2 separate regions of the Homo sapiens genome follow, and region 1 is linked to region 2. Evidence: fine-mapped expression QTL. Tissue or cell type: thyroid. Region 2 holds a variant in brackets; the other region holds the start of a gene. All regions are shown on one strand. Distances are between the middles of the regions.

Region 1 (5,103 bases), 120 kb before region 2:
TATCATGACGCTGTTCTGCATTTTGACTGTGGTAGTGAACACAAGAATGTACAGATGTGATAAAACTGTACAGAACAGATACAGCTACAAGAAAAATGGAGAAATCCGAATAGGATCTGTGGACTGTGTCCACGCAATGCCCTGGTCGATACTGCACTACGTTTCACAGAATGTAACCAATGGGGGACACTGGGAAGGTGTGCAAGGAATCTCTCCATGTTAGTCTTGTAACTGTTTGTGAATCTACAATTATCACAATAAAAATTTCCATAAAAAGGTGGAACAGGCCCAGTGGCTCCCTCCAGGCCTTGGTTTGTATTTGCCTTCTGAGAAGCTCTCTGGACTATAAAATCCAAAATTCCTAGCACGGACCTAGACACCTTCTCGATCAGATCCCTGGCGATTCCCTTCACATCTCCTGCCTCTTGCTCAGGGTTCACTTTCTCCACACACAGATCTTCCCTCCCTCGGGACTGAGTCCAAGCTGCACCTCTCTCCGCCTTTCTTTAACGCCGGCCTTCCCTTCAAAACCTAACAGAGACCTTTGCCCTGCTGTTCCCTGTGCCAGGAGAGCCTCTGCTCCACTTCTTTACACAGCCTGTTCAATGTCACCTTCTCAAAACACCTTCCCTGGCCGTGTCTCCACCCGCGCCGTGCGGACCCGCGCCCCGCAGACTCGCTCCCTTGGCCCTGTCTCCACACGCTCCATGTGGACCCGCTCCCCTGGCCCTGTCTTCACCCGCACCACGCAGACCCGCTCCCTTGGCCCTGTCTTTACCCGTGCCCCGCAGACCCGCTCCCCTCGCCCTGTCTTCACCCGCGCCCCGCAGACCCGCTCCCTTGGCCCTGTCTTCACCCGCGCCCCGCAGACCCGCTCCCTTGGCCCTGTCTCCACCCGCGCCATGAGGACCCGCTCCCCTGGCCCTGTCTTTACCCGCGCCCCCAAGACCCGCTCCCCTGGCGCTGTCTTCACCCGCGCCCCGCAGACTCGCTCCCTTGGCCCTGTCTCCACACGCTCCATGAGGACCCGCTCCCCTGGCCCTGTCTTCACCCGTGCCCCGCAGACCCGCTCCCCTGGCCCTGTCTTCACCCGCGCCCCCAAGACCCGCTCCCCTCGCCCTGTCTTCACCCGTGCCCCGCAGACCCGCTCCCCTGGCCCTGTCTTCACCCGCGCCCCCAAGACCCGCTCCCCTCGCCCTGTCTTCACCCGTGCCCCGCAGACCCGCTCCCCTGGCCCTGTCTTCACCCGCGCCCCCAAGACCCGCTCCCCTCGCCCTGTCTTCACCCGTGCCCCGCAGACCCGCTCCCCTGGCCCTGTCTTCACCCGCACCACGCAGACCCGCTCCCTTGGCCCTGTCTTTACCCGTGCCCCGCAGACCCGCTCCCCTCGCCCTGTCTTCACCCGCGCCCCGCAGACCCGCTCCCTTGGCCCTGTCTTCACCCGCGCCCCGCAGACCCGCTCCCTTGGCCCTGTCTCCACCCGCGCCATGAGGACCCGCTCCCCTGGCCCTGTCTTTACCCGCGCCCCCAAGACCCGCTCCCCTGGCGCTGTCTTCACCCGCGCCCCGCAGACTCGCTCCCTTGGCCCTGTCTCCACACGCTCCATGAGGACCCGCTCCCCTGGCCCTGTCTTCACCCGTGCCCCGCAGACCCGCTCCCCTGGCCCTGTCTTCACCCGCGCCCCGCAGACCCGCTCCCCTCGCCCTGTCTTCACCCGCGCCCCCAAGACCCGCTCCCCTCGCCCTGTCTTCACCCGCGCCCCGCAGACCCGCTCCCCTCGCCCTGTCTTCACCCGCGCCCCGCAGACCCGCTCCCCTCGCCCTGTCTTCACCCGCGCCTGCGGACCCGCTCCCCTTGCCGTGGCTTCCCCGGGCGCGCGGGGCCCCTGTTGGGTCCTTGGGTGGAACCTCAGCGCCGACCCCCGGGTCTGGGCGGGCCCTCCACGCGCTGGGAGGGCGGGATCCGCAAGGCGCCTCACAATCGCTGACTGCGGACGCGGGTGTCGCCGCGGGAAGTTCAGCGCCGGGTCGGAGGGCGCCCGCTCCGGGGGTTCTGACCCGGGCGCGCCCCCAGCCTGGTCCCGGCCCGGCGCTCCCGTCCAGGCCCCGCGCCGCTGCGGCCGACCTGGGGCCGGGGCGGCGTCCGATTCCCGCGCCCCCGCTCACCTGGTGGCCGCCTTGGTGAGCACCGGGTAGAGCCGCAGGAAGAGCAGGTACTGGGCGAGCGCCCGCCGCGGCAGCGCCCCGAGCCCGGCTTCGGCCCGCAGCCTGGACGCGGCCGGCGCCATCGCCTCCCCAGCGCCGTGCCGCCGGGGGCACCGACCCCACCTCAGGCTGGCCGGGCGCGGAGCCCGAGGCGCCGAGAGCGGAGTGGGGACCGCCTGACATTTCCGGCCCCACCGCGGCCCGCAGCGCCGCCCGGTCCCAACCCCACGGTGCGCCGCGCGCGCCTACCACACACTTTTCCCCGGTCCCTGCCGGCCACCTCCCCCGCCGGGCGCCGGCGCCAATTGGAGCGCCTCGGGGGGCGGGGGAGGGGCGGAGCGCGCCTCTTGATGGACGGCGGCATTTCCGGCTCTCGCGAGTCTGGGTGGGAGCGCGCCAAATTTCTCCCCTGAAGCAGAGGTGGTAGCCAACGGCTCCATGTCTCTGAGGAGCGGCGGGCGGCGGCGCGCGGACCCAGGCGCGGATGGCGAGGCCAGCAGGTGAGGGGCGCCCTCCTGAGGCTCTCGGGCCGGCCCTCCGGAGGGTGCCATGGGGCCGTCCTCGGCTGGCGCCGCCGAGGCGGGAGGGAGGCCCGGTTCCCGCAGCCGCCCGCACTCGCCGCGCCTGACTGGGGTAGGGCGGCGCGCCCCGACCGCCGACGGAGGGGCTCGGGGCGGGCGGAGGCGCTACGGGCGCGGCTTCTTTGCGGGGAAACGAGGCGGGCCGCGCGGCCTTTCCCTGCTCGGCTCTTTCTGAGGTTTTTCGGGCCTCGCCTTCCGCGCAGCTGCGTTTGGGACCTGCCGCGCGGCGGGGGCGATGAGAGCGGCGGGACCCGGGCCAGGCCCTGCGGGGTGGACGCGCGGCTGGGGAGGGTGCGGGGAGGGGCGGGGCCGGGGACCCTGCCTGGGGGCCTAGCGCTGGGGGAGGCCGAGGCGGGCGGATCGCTGGAGCCCAGGATCCTGTTCTAGATCAGCCTGGGCTACAGAGAGAGACCTCGTCTCCTCTGTTTTATTTTTTTGGGCAGGGAGTCCCGCTCTGTCGCCCAGGCTGGAGTGCAGTGGCGCGATCTCGGCTCACTGCAACCTCTGCTTCCCGGGTTCAAGCGATCCCGCTGCCTCAGCCTCCCGAGTAGCTGGAATTACAGGCGCCCGCCACCAGGCCCGGCTAGTTTTTGTATTTTTAGTAGAGACCGGGTTTCACCATGTTGGCCAGGCTGGTCTCGAACTCCTGACCTCAGGTGATCCGCCCGCCTCGGCCTTCCAAAGTGCTGGGATTACAGACGTGAGACTCCGCGCCCGGCCCTTCTCTTGTAAAAACAAGAAAAATTAGACAGGCTGGTGGTGCGCGCCCGAGGTCCCAGCTATTAATACTCCCGAATCCGAGCCGGAGGTTCACCTGAGCCCGGCAGGTCAAGGCTGCTGTGAGCCGGGATCGCGCCACCGCACTCCAGCCTGGGCGACGGAGCCAGACCCAGTCTCAAAAAAAATAGAGCAAGGATAAGACGCGGCTGCTTGGTGGCCAGAGCAAACGGTAAACATGACCGGAGGACTGGCCTGCCATAAGCAGAAAACGGATGAGGCCCGGCGCGGTGGCTCACACCTGTAATCCCAGCACTTTGGGAGGCCGAGGCAGGAGGATCACCTGAGGTCAGGAGTTCGAGACCAGCCTGACCAACATGGAGAAATCCCGTCTCCACTAAAAAAATACAAAATTAGCGGGGCGTGGTGGCGCATGCCTGTAATCCCAGCTACGCAGGAGGCTGAGGCAGGAGAATCACTTGAACGCGGCAGGCGGAGGTTGCGGTGAACCGAGATCGCGCCATTGCACTCCAGGCTGGGCAACAAAGAATGAAACTCTGTCTCAAAAAAAAAAAAATAGAAAAAACGTGTGAGAACGTGAAGCTTTTTACAGACACTTAGCTGAACAAAATTCTTCCCAGAGGAGAAACCAAGTGGTAAGGATCCCTAACTGCTGTTGTGCTCATCGCTGTCTGTCCATATCAGGCAAGCCCTAGAGAGGCAGGTACCCTTAGGGTCTACATGGTGTGTTGGAACTTGGAGCTTAGAGACGGTTACTGACTGCCCTGCTTCAGGACACAGGACTGCACTCACGTGCTCCACTCCACTGCCCTGCCCCAAGCTCAGTGATGGCCTCCAGGCAGGGGGAAGGCTGCTGCTGGGATAAGTACAAGTGATGGCTTTTACCTTACATGCTTTATGTGGGTTACCTCATCTCATCCTTAAAACAGTCCTGGGAGGTGAGTGTGCCCCAGGAGGCAGTGGGTGCTGTTTGCCTGCGTTTCTTCTTGTGTGAAATGGGGACACCAGTGGCCTCCCTCGTAGGGGTTGTCATGAAAACTGAATGAGAGCATATGTGGAGTACTGGGACGGTGTGATACAGTAACCAGTCAATGGTAGCTCTCTGTGAATGAGAGCCTGTGTGGAGTACTGGGACAGTGTGATACAGTAACCAGTCAATGGTAGCTCTCTGTGAATGAGAGCCTGTGTGTAGTACTGGGACGGTGTGATACAGTAACCAGTCAATGGTAGCTCTGTGAATGAAAGCCTGTGTGGAGTACTGGGACGGTGTGATATAGTAACCAGTCAATGGTAGCTCTCTGTGAATGAGAGCCTGTGTGGAGTACTGGGACGGTGTGATATAGTAACCAGTCAATGGTAGCTCTGTGAATGAGAGCCTGTGGAGTACTGGGATTGTGTGATACAGTAACCAGTCAATGGTAGCTCTCTGTGAATGAGAGCCTGTGTGGAGTACTGGGACGGTGTGATACAGTAACCAGTCAATGGTAGCTCTCTGTGAATGAGAGCCTGTGTGGAGTACTGGGACGGTGTGATATAGTAACCAGTCAATGGTAGCTCTCTGTGAATGAGAGCCTGTGTGG
Region 2 (5,000 bases):
CGCCCAGGCAGGAGGACGCCTCGGGCTTCCTGGTTCTGGCGTGGGCCTGTGCCCTGCTTTGCCTTGCCGTGGGGCCCCGCACGCTGTCTCCCAGGGACAGCCTGCCCTCCCTCGCAGGACCACCACACTTTTGGCCCGCCAGTTTCTGCAAAGGTGGGAAGCAGGTGCTCTTGCCAGGGAAGGTGGGCGACCCTCCCCGGGGAGCCACTTGCCACCAGGGCCGAGACAGCCCCACCCAGAGGGGGAGTGGTGCACACCTAGTCTCCAGCCCAGGAGGAGCTGCTGTGAGCCTGGATGGGCCAAGGGGAGATGGTCGTTTCCCACCAGGGGCGCCAGGGAAAGGGGGGTCCCACAGCAAAGACCGGCCATCACACCACAGCCCCCTCCTCCCCAGACTGGCTCTACCGCCCCTTCCCTCTGGGCTACCACCCTGCCCAGAAGCAGCTGTGCTCGGGGTGCGGCCGGGACAGATTCCTTCCCTCCCAGACTCAGGGCCTCAGCGTCCTGGCTGTCTGGGCTCAGGGCAGTACCCCCGAGTCCCAGTCTGGGGGTCCCTGCTCGACACCTGCAGGTGGGCCACATACATCCCTTCTCCATTCCTCTGAATTCCTCAACCACGGGGTCTGGGGGTCCAAGACCCTCTAGTGCCCAGGGGTGCCTGGTCCTCGGAAGCACTATCTGCCCGTCCACGATGTGGGCGGTGCCCCAGGGGAGCCCAGGGGTGCGTGCTGGGCCCTTCAGGGCAGCTGTGGGCAATGAGTGGGCGCTGCAGGATCCTGGGAGGTCAAGGGCTTGGCAGCTACCGGGGATGGTCCAGGCCCCGTCTTCAGAACCTGAGGCCCACAGGTGAGGCGGCTTCAGGACTGAGAGCTGTGTGCCCCTCCGCAGAGGGTGGGGTTACAGCACAAGGCCAGGAACAGTGAGGAGGGTCACGGGGTTCCCTCTCCCCTGGCTGAGATGGCACACAACCTCCTGCTACCCAGGTCCCCTGCGGGTGTGGACGGCCCCGTAAGGCCCGGGTCCCCCACGGTGTGGACGGCCCCGTAAGAACCTCCTCGCAGTGTGGATGGCCCCGTAAGAACCTCCTTGCGGTAAGGACGGCCTGTGAGGCTGCTGTCCACACCAGGGCCTCCTGCCAAGGACTGGAATGTTCTCCTTCGAGGCTTCCACAGTGTGCTCTCCACACGGTCCCACCACCTCCCAGGGCTGCTCCCAGGCTGGACCCCCTGTCCCTCCCACGGTGGCCACACACAGACCGCAGGGCCCCCCATCCTGGCAGGGGCTGCTCACGCCAGCACCCAGATGACGACAGGTACAAGGGAGGGAAAGGGGGGTGGTTGTGGGCAGAGAGTTTGGCGAGGTTGTCATGCACTCCCCCCAAAATCCACCCACCCGCTGTGCCCGCCCCACCTGCCAGGGGCAGCGGTACCTTAGGCTGAAAAGCGCCCTGCAGGGACCCGAAGGGGCCGGGGTGTGGGAGCAGGGTGGGCAGTCCCGGGATGGCAGGAGGGAAGGACGGGAAGAACTGTAAGAGAAGGAGAGCGGATGGAGGGGGGGCCCAAGTCCTCACCCCACCCTCTGCCTGTAACCAGAAGGTGGCACCAATGCAGCAGGGGCGAGGCCAGGCGAGGGGCAGCCCCACCCACCGCCCCGTGGCCAGGACCTGCGTGCACAGCGACACGCGCCGGGCCCCTCGGGGACACTCACACTCACGCTGGAATGTCGGAAGTAGGGGCTGTCCAGCTTGGGCGCATACTTGTCAAACTGGAAGGGAAGGAGAGGAGGGTGAGGCCCCGCACACACGACACCGTTGCTGGGCCCCGGGCCCCGCCCACCTGGCCGGGCTGGGCAGTGACAGGACGGCGTTGTGCTTCCTGAGGCTGGCGGCTTCGGCCAGCCGTCCCAGGCTCCTCTAGAGCGCCAGCCCCACGGCTCTGAACTCAGTCTCAGACCAGGGCGGCCCTGCCATTCTAAGGGTCCCCTTGCATGGGGTGGGAACTCGGCCCCCCCAGGCAGTCTGTGTGCCTGGCTGAGGCCTGGGGCGTGAAGCCCTGGCTGCTGGGTCGCGCTGGGGACACACCGGGTTACTGACAAACTGGCCAGTTTCCGAATAAAACTCGAGAGAGTGGAGGGGACTCCAGCCCCCAGCAACTCCCTCCTCAGACCGGGCCTCCGGGGCGGGGAACACGGGAGGCACCCTGAGTCATGGTCCCTGTGCCCTCAGGCCTGTCTGGGCCTCCAGCCCTGGCACTGGGGATCTAGTGCAGGCGTGAGGGTGTCCCATGCACGTGGGCACGGGGTGCCTGCCTAAGTCCAGGACCACTGCCGAGGGTGGGGGCCTCATGGCACAGCTTGGGGTGGGGACACCAGAAGGCACGTTGGGGACCGGACAGACGACAGAGAGGTGCCGCCGGCCCCCCACCTCCTCCTGGGCTGGTGTGTGTGCGAGCGTGTGTCTGTGTGTGCCTGCTGCGTGTCCCCGCCCCACGCCCGCCCCCGCCCCCTGCCAGCACGCGGGCCTACGCACCGGCGGGGGTGCGGCGGGCGGCGTCGGGGGCAGCCCTGCGGGGAAGGGGGCGAATGTGTGTTGGTGCTGGTGTGTGTGTTGGTGCGTGTGCTGGTGTGTGTGCTGGTGCTGATGGAACTCCGCCCGCAGCAGAGCCCCCGGGCCCAGGGAGGCGCCAGGCCGCTCGGCGCTCTGCACCAGAAACCGCGTGTTCAGCTCTTGCCTGAGCAGCTCGTGATCTACAAGAGAAAAAGAGAGAGAGACAGAGAGGCACGTTGGCCGCGGGCTCCCGGCGGGGC[G/A]AGGCGGATAGTCACCTGGCACTCCCGGGGTCGGCAGGCCAAGCCGGGGTGGCCGCTCGCCACGTGCGGGCCCAGGGGTGCAGGTAAGAGAGGAGCCTGTGACCAAGTACCAATCAGAATTCCCGAATGAGGCTGGCAATACATGATTGGCTGGCTGAATGAGACCGCCAGGCTGGCATCTAGAGGCAAGAGAGAACACGGTGAGCCCCTCCCCGGGAGCCAGGGTCCAGCCACCCGCAGGCCAGCATCCTGGTCCCATCCCGGGACACGGGGCCGTCCCCAGCCTGGGCCGGGCTGACTCGGAGCCTCAGGAAGCGCCTGGGGGCCGAGGGAGGAAGCCTTCGCGGTCGGGGTTCCACTGGGATGGCGCCTGCTTGATGTGCGGCCCCCTCCTCCCAGGGCTCAGGACCCAGCAGGCTGCGGGGGAGGCCTGGCCCCAGGAGGGGAGGCCCGTGCGCCCGTCTCAGTGTGAACACGCGTCTGTACGTGCATGGGCACGTGTCCTGCCTGTCCCCGCACACAGATGGCCTGTGGCCCAGCAGAGACTCCTGGGGAAAGGCACACCTGGGGGAACCACTCAGAGAGGCGCGCAGGGTCCGCAGAGACCACAGCAGGTGGAGGGCCAGGCTGTGCGCCCCTCCCCGGTGGCCGTGTCCCCGCACCCCCCAACCCCTGCCCTGGGCGAGATTGTGGCCGAGACACCTACCGGCCGGGTGTCCTGGGAGGACCAGGCTGCTGGCCGGCAGCGCCGGGGGCGGGGGCAGTGTCGGGGGTGCGGCAAACATGGCCGCGTGGAGCTGGTGCTGCGCCTGGGACCGGAGCGCCAGGTGTGAGGTAGACAGGTGGGGGCCCGGCCCGTGTGGCGACAGCGACACGTGCTTCCCCAGGCCCAGGGGGGCGCTGCTGCTCCTGCTGCGGGACACGGGGCTCAGTGCCTGCCAGCCCGACCCCTGCAGAGCCCCCATCCTGAGACCACACAGGCCCCGTCCCCCGCGGGGACCCCACCTGAGGCCGTGCAGGCCGTTGGCTGCCGCCTGGCTGTGGCCCGCGAAGGCGCCCAGGGATGCAGGCACGTGTGTCGGGAGCAGGCCGCGGGGCTGCGGGGGTGGCGGCTGCGGGGTGTGGCGGTGCGGGGCGGGGGGTTCCTTCTTCACCAAGGGATTGGCGCGGGAGCCGGGCGGGGGCCCCGGGCAGGGCGCGGCATGGGGCGCGGGGCTGGCAGTGGGCAGGAAGCTCTCGGCGCTGAGCTCGCGGCTGCGCTCCAGGCCTGACACCTTGGGCACCGGCCCGGCCTTGGCCTCCGACTTCTCAAGCGCTGGGCCTGCAGAGAGAGGGTGGCTGCGTTCAGACCAGCAGGGCCTCGTCCCTGCCCCTCCTGTGGCCCAGGGAGCCCTGGTACGTGCCCGGTGCCCAGGCTATGTCTGGGCTCCGGCTATGCCCCCATTTCAGATGAGGAGGCAGGCACGGAGGCCACACAGCTAGCTGGATCTCACCCGAGGCTCCAGGCCCCGCCCGGCGGAGGGAGCTGGCTTGGGAGCCTGGGCCGTGGCCAGGGGTGGGGGTGGGTAGCCCACCTGCCCGAAGACGCATCACTGGCAGGGACAGGACAGGCCCTGCAAGAGTCAGTCCCTGGACAGGGGCTGCTATGACCTCATTTAACAGACAAAACCAAGATACATCAAGGACTTGGCCCAAGAGGGGAGCTGGATTTGAACACGGGAGCTAGGGCCTGTGTACCTAGGCCTCATGTTCACGGCCCCTGGATGTGCCCTCAGCCCAGGGCATGGGTCTGCCCCACCCCAACAGCAGCGCCCACAGCTGTAACCACCTTTTCTTTCTGGAACCCCCTGGTGGAAGGCTTGACCACTTCCTGGAAACTTGGGCAGGGACTGGGTGGGAGGCTTCCCCCTACTGTGACTGCCCGTCACCCGCCACCCTCAGCCCTGCTCCCTGGCCACCCTTCTGCCCACCTAGGCACGTCCCCCGCAGGTCCTGTGGGCCCCTCTGAGCCCCTGGGGCCTGCCCCCCCCACCCCCGCACACCCCAAACCCTCCTTTTCAGGCCCCTTCGGGCAGGTCTCAGATCAAGTCCCCAGGAGTCAGGAGAGGGCAGCGTCCATGTGGTGGAGCTCCTGTTGCCTGGGGTCAGGAGCTGCCACGGTCAGGGGGCCAGTTTCGCAGGAGAAACAAAACAAC

Evidence for each region. PIP is the estimated chance that this variant, and not a neighbour inherited with it, causes the effect.
Region 1: POLE starts here. The variant in region 2 is fine-mapped to the expression of POLE in thyroid (GTEx, PIP 0.96).

Annotation. Positions count from the first base shown.
Region 1 is chr12:132,684,855-132,689,957 of GRCh38, reverse strand. It overlaps POLE (DNA polymerase epsilon, catalytic subunit), which reads left to right and starts at 2,616. Exons shown (of 49, transcript NM_006231.4): 1 at 2,616-2,704. The coding sequence starts at 2,643. It overlaps PXMP2 (peroxisomal membrane protein 2), which reads right to left and starts at 2,371. Exons shown (of 5, transcript NM_018663.3): 1 at 2,166-2,371. The coding sequence starts at 2,287. RefSeq lists a silencer at 1,856-3,165.
Region 2 is chr12:132,569,052-132,574,051 of GRCh38, reverse strand. FBRSL1 (fibrosin like 1) reads right to left here. Exons shown (of 19, transcript NM_001367871.1): 7 at 3,811-4,126; 8 at 3,512-3,717; 9 at 2,821-2,984; 10 at 1,708-1,764; 11 at 1,430-1,525. Among named protein-coding and RNA genes, the nearest start is that of MIR6763, 10 kb to the left of the region's middle. The variant G/A (reference allele first, on the strand shown) is at 2,806.